2 separate regions of the Homo sapiens genome follow, and region 2 is linked to region 1. The links come from fine-mapping of genetic effects on gene expression. A gene starts in region 1. The other region holds a variant in brackets. All regions are shown on one strand. Distances are between the middles of the regions. Region 1 holds the start of GPRIN3 (GPRIN family member 3). Region 2 overlaps GPRIN3 (GPRIN family member 3).

Evidence for each region.
Region 2: its variant is fine-mapped to the expression of GPRIN3 in whole blood (TOPMed, PIP above 0.99).

The regions. Positions count from the first base shown.
Region 1 is chr4:89,306,079-89,309,000 of GRCh38, forward strand. GPRIN3 (GPRIN family member 3) reads right to left here and starts at 1,722. Exons shown (of 2, transcript NM_198281.3): 1 at 1,537-1,722. RefSeq lists silencers at 1,672-1,721, 1,732-1,801.
Region 2 is chr4:89,237,291-89,240,212 of GRCh38, forward strand. GPRIN3 (GPRIN family member 3) reads right to left here. Exons shown (of 2, transcript NM_198281.3): 2 at 1-2,922. Among named protein-coding and RNA genes, the nearest start is that of GPRIN3, 69 kb to the right of the region's middle. The variant T/C (reference allele first, on the strand shown) is at 1,585.

The DNA.
Region 1 (2,922 bases):
TCAATAACCTATTCCCTCGATTAAAGACACACAAAACTTGAAAAACTAAACACACACAAAAACTCGAAAAAGAACATTCTCTAACGCAAACTCCTGTCTTTTGCAGATAGCAGCAGAGATTTTCTGCTTTGGGCTGTGACTCATGTACCTTTATTCCCACAATTGTTACTCAGGGCAGGCCAATGGTGAGCACAATGGGAAAAGAAAGAATAGGTTATAACTGGAAAATAAGCACATTCGGGCGAAGTACACTCAAAGCATTATCAAAGTAAAATATGCAGCAGCACCAACAAGAGCAAACAAAAGCCCACGCAGGAGATGTGTAAATATTTCATGAAGCAAAGCCTTAATCAACCCTCTCTCCCAAATCTTGCTGGTGTTGTAAACACTTCAGTTTCTTCTAGTCCCACCATGACCCAGATACCTTGCAAAAACAAAATAAAAACATAGTCCAATGGATCTTTAAACAAATGTGTTGTGAAAATATTTAGATGGAGCATACCCAAGTACCGCTTTAACCAAGAGGAAGAAGACACCTTACTCAAAGGTGGGTGCTTCTTGAGTGACTGCTCAGAGCTCTGTTTCTCCCCTCCCCCTCCAAGCCCTTGCCTTTTGCCCACCTCCTCGGCTGCTTTGTGGACATTCACATCGTCTTAACCTTGAACTGCCTACACCCCAAGCGGTGATTTCTCCCAATGGCCCTCCAGAAAGCCCTTGAAACCTGGTCTGGATTCGATGCCTTCCCATCACCCAAAATTCACTTCCCAGTGGCATATTAAGTACCTCTCCTTTTTTCCCTCTTTCACTGTCCATTATTGCGTCTGAAATGATGCCTACATCGTTTCCATCTGCCTGGAGAGCATGAAGATCTTCTGTGTGTGTTGGCTGACAGGCTCCTTCAGACCTCTTCTAAAGCCCATCTTGAAAGAACCGTTTATCACCTCTAGTCTCTACCCTGATTTAATGTGGTTCCAAAGTTCGCCTCTATTAGTGAACATGTCTCTACAACGATTTCCCTTTATCAACCCCTGCCCGCCCTTCCTCTTCTTTCTGCCTACCTCAAGAAAACCTATTTACATATGCATTTATGTATGTGTGTGTATATACACACACATACATACATCCATATGTAATATATATTTCTATGTTTTGACCTTAAAGGGGATAAGCATAGGAAAATGAGACAAATGTCACACACACACACACACACACACACACACCCCTCATATTCGGATATTCGCAGTGTGCAGACCCGATTGATTATAAATTTCCCTGCCCACGATCAGCAGGCGTCTTCTCCCATTTACCTTCAAAGCCAGAGCCAAAGAGAGCAATGACCTTGCAGAGAAATTCATCACCTGCGAGAAAGACTGCCCCTCCTAGAGCGCAGGATGGGACAGAGACAAGAGCAACAGGCAAAGGATCCCTGTGCAAAATGTGGGACCGAATCCCTTCCGCATCCCTACAGAGCACACCACCAGGCTCCGGTCCCCCGCGCTGGCCGCCAGGCGGAGGTGCGCAGGGGGCGTCTCCTACCTGCTCTGCCCGGCTCCGCGGCGCGGCGGGGCCACTGCCTGCGCTGTGGCGGGGGCTTCCCGTCGCATATCCCAAGCACCGTCTCTCGGCGCCACACCGATGGCTCCGGCGGGCCCGCGAGCTGAGGTCCTTCTCAGCCCGGTCCCGGAGCGAGCTCCGTGCGTTCAGGAACTGAAATTACTATGCCAAGAGCAGAGGCGGCGCGCAGCAGTCGGGCGTAGACCGAGGGGGCTGCCCCCACCGCGGGGCTGCAGACGCCGCCGCCGCCCCCGCCGGGCGCAGAGCCAGTTTGGAGGTGAGAGTTCACTTGCCCGACTGTTCATCCGTCAGGCCCGGGGTGTACCCATCTGTCCAGCGCTGCCCAGCCTGAGCATCCGAGAGAGGGGCGACAGCTTTGCAGGCGGCGGCGGCGGCAGCAGCAGCGGCGGCAGCAGGAGGCCGAGCTCCGCCCCCTCCAAACCCCCTCCCCCGCCTTCCCGGTCCTGGGGGAAAGTGTTGCAGCCCAGGCTGCTGAGCGCCGGGCCGGGAGCTAGGAGGGGTCTGGTGGGTTGTGGTTCTGCACCCCTGGAGACCAGAGACAGATGGAAAGTTAAGAAGGGATTAAGGAAGAGGGCTGGGGACCCAGAGCGATTTAGCAGGCATTCTGGCCCTTGCTCCCTCCCACAGGTCACCAGACTCCATGGCTGAGTCTAGACTCTAGCAGAAGGTTTCCAATAAAGCCACGTGCAGTGGAGATCTGAAAGCAAGATCATCCGATAAGTAATATGTTTTGCAAAATGTACAGTATCCTGCGTATTCGGAGAGGCACTGCTGACAGTGTTCCTGTCCCCATCCCCTTCCCGCTACCCCATGGGCTTGGAGGGCTTTGAGGGCTTTGGAAATCTTCCCTGTTGAGCAGCTCCAGAATCCTGAATGGATGTGTAGTATGGTTAGCAGCTGTAGATGGTGCAAAATGATACGATGAAAAGAGCTTCATTATTAACTGGGTATTTGTTGGAAGGCTCTGTGAAAAATGCCTTACATACAGCCTCAGCCTCTTTAATTCTTACTACAACCCATTGAGGTGCCTTACCATGTGGACGAGGAAACAGGCTTATATGATCTAAACACTTTGCTTGAGGTCACACAGTAGTAACCTGCTCAGCTGGGATTCAAACCAATCCAAAATATATCCTCTCATCTAGTACACAGGACTCACCTAGGGGGTCTTGTTAAAATGCTGATTGTGATCCAATAGGTCTGGGGTAGGGACTGAGGAAACGCTTTTTTAGTTTTTTGTTGTTGTTGTTTTTTGTTTTTTGCTTCGTCTCCTAGGCTGGAGTGCAGTGGCGCGCTCTCGGCTCACTGCAAGCTCCGCTTCCCGGGGTCAAGCGATTCTCCTGCCTC
Region 2 (2,922 bases), 69 kb before region 1:
TTGTGTAGAATGGTGTTGAAGAAAATTTAATAATGGTGGCATTCAGAAGTTCATTAAGAATGTGTATGCCATGGTCTAAATGTCTGTATCCCTCCAAAACTCATGTTGAAGTCTGAACTCCTAAGGCGATGGTGTTAGAAAGTGGGGGCTTTGGGTGGTGATTAGATGGTGGTCACAGAGCCCTCATGAGTGAGATTAGTGCCCTTTTGAAAGTGGCCCGGGAGGGGACACTTCATCCCTTTTACTGTGTGAGGACACAGCAAACAGGCACCACACGTGAGCCGGCAAGTAGGCCCTCACCAGACACCAAATTGGCCTTGATTTTGGGGTTCCCAGCTTCCAAAACTGTAAGAAATAAATTTATTTACAAGCCTCCCAGTTTATGATACTTTATTATAGCAGCCCAGATAAATTCAGACAGGGTGGTTGACCAAAAGTGATCTTATATTGTTTACAAAAGGCAAACCCTTCACAAGAAACAAGAGGTATTTTGAGTTCACAATCAGTCCAGTGAAGCAATATTATGCTAAGAAGGATGTTCTTCTGTTTGCTACTCAACATTGAAGATGTGAAGAATGAGAACATTTGGCTGGAAACGGCACCTAATGAAACAAACACCCACTGGTGGGACATAAACAGCTATAGGCATAAGACAAACCATCTCGGCCCTCCTGAGACTTGCAAGATCTAACTTCTCCAGGCAAGGCATTTATATCTTTGGAAATGCATGAGGTTTTAATTTGACCAAGAATAAATGTTTAAGTATGCAAGAGTTAGAGAATGGCAGCCACAGGGCACCATTTTAGGTTAAAATAGTGTGCATTTATACACACACACACACACAGCAGCTGGAGGGAGAGTATGGCTCTTGGAAATTTTGAAGCAATCACTGTTTAAAGTTCATGGGAAATTCACTAAATCATTGTTTTGAGATTTGGGTTTCATATATCTTGTACCTCTCCTTCTTTACAGATCCTTGATGAATTGAAGATATTCAAGGAGGTAAAAAGGGATCAAACTGTAGTGCTAGTTTTACTACTGGTCAAGTCAAACTGGGGATATGGCTGGGCTTTCCATCTCCTTCTAGGAATCCAGACTGCAGGATCCCAGTTTATCTTCTCAGGAGTAGGCAGAAAGGCTGGAGCTATATAGGGTACACCTGATGGCTCTGGGTAAGAGGCATCTAAGCCTGGACAATAAGGCAATCTAAGCGCCCTGGACCCCTACCCAGCTCTGTTACCCCACCCCCGCCTGTATTTTCACAATGCTCAGCTCTCATCATTCTCACCAAACAACACACACACAACGCACAAACACACACACACTCTGCTCTACCAAGTACAGGAAAAACCTCGCGTTTGATGACCAGGAGGAATTGTTGATTCTATGGGAATTCTATTTTAATTAAAGAAAAAAGTTCTTTCATTGCAAATACTTCCAGTTCCACTGCAGATTCCTAGCAGAAGCTGTCACATGGAAAATCAACTGATTCTGCACATTCATGGTTAAAAGAACGATTTCAATAGCAGTGGAAACAATAATAACATCAACAAAAAACAGAATAAATTGTATCTATATTACATT[T/C]ATTATGAAAAGTGAGATGCAAAAAAATCATAATCTAAATTTTTTGATGGTAAAACTAAGTCATTAGTTGAATATCAGAATTTTAAGCATCCATTCAAAAATCAAATCCAAAATGAAGGTGTAAGTATACGTAATTCCAAAATCTTACTTCATCTTTGTATAAATTATAACATTTCTTCTTTTTTCTAGGAAATGAAGTTTTATTGGTCAATATCTGGAGGATGAGAACTTTCTGAAATGATTTTATGGCCTTTGTAAACATTATAATGTAGACATTATAAAAAAACATAACTTTGGATTTTAATATTAATACATTCATAAATGGACTTTCCATTTTGAATATTTTTTCTTGTAATATTATACCACACTTTTGATCTTTCTTAGTTGAGTATTTACACACATAAATGATTCTCATATTGAAAACTGCAATTTTTAAGTTATAATTTTTCTGGGTATTATTCAAATTAATACACATCTTTCAAAAATAATCACATAAATTTATCTTTGAAGCAACCATAAGTATTGACAAACATCAAGATTTCAGGTATGCTGCACTTATAAACATGTATACTTTTATTAGTTAAAAAACACTGCCACTCTAGTTGTAATTGTAGTGTTCTTATAGCTGGTTAATCTTTTATTTTTATTTAATATACAACGATGGCACATTCGTTCTCTAAAACATGAATATGTTTTTAAATGTTATTCTTAACTTTCTACTGAGAAGTGGTTGTTTGTACTTTGCCAAATGGAATTCTCTATCAAGGGGTGATTCTGGTATTTCCATTTATATTTTCTTTTTTTTGAGACAGAGCCTTGCCCTGTCTCCCAGGCTGGAGTGCAATGGCGCGAACTTGGCTCACTGCAACCTCTGCTTCCCAGGTTCAAGTGATTCTCCCACCTCAGCCTCCCGAGTAGCTGGGATTACAGGCACACACCACCATGCCCGGCTAGTTTTTGTATTTTTAGTAGAGACGGGGTTTTGCCATGTTGGCCAGGCTGGTCTTGAACTCCTGACCTCAGGTGATCTGCCTGCCTTGGCCTCCCAAAGTGCTGGGATTGCAGGTGTGAGCCACCACGCCCAGCCTCCATGCATATTTTCAATCTGATACCCAACCAACGTAATTTTTAGTGTCGAGGATTCAAGGTCAAATTGTGTTAGGTTTTAAGAACCAGGTGAGACTTTTTGATCCCTAATAGAGCACTTCCTTTGAGAAAAAATGAGATAAATTCGAACAATATCAATTAACTGGTTGGAATTATGATAAGCTGACAAATCTTGTTCAGAGTTGACACTTGCCAGCTAATGATTCTAATGTTGTTAGAATCCACACAGTA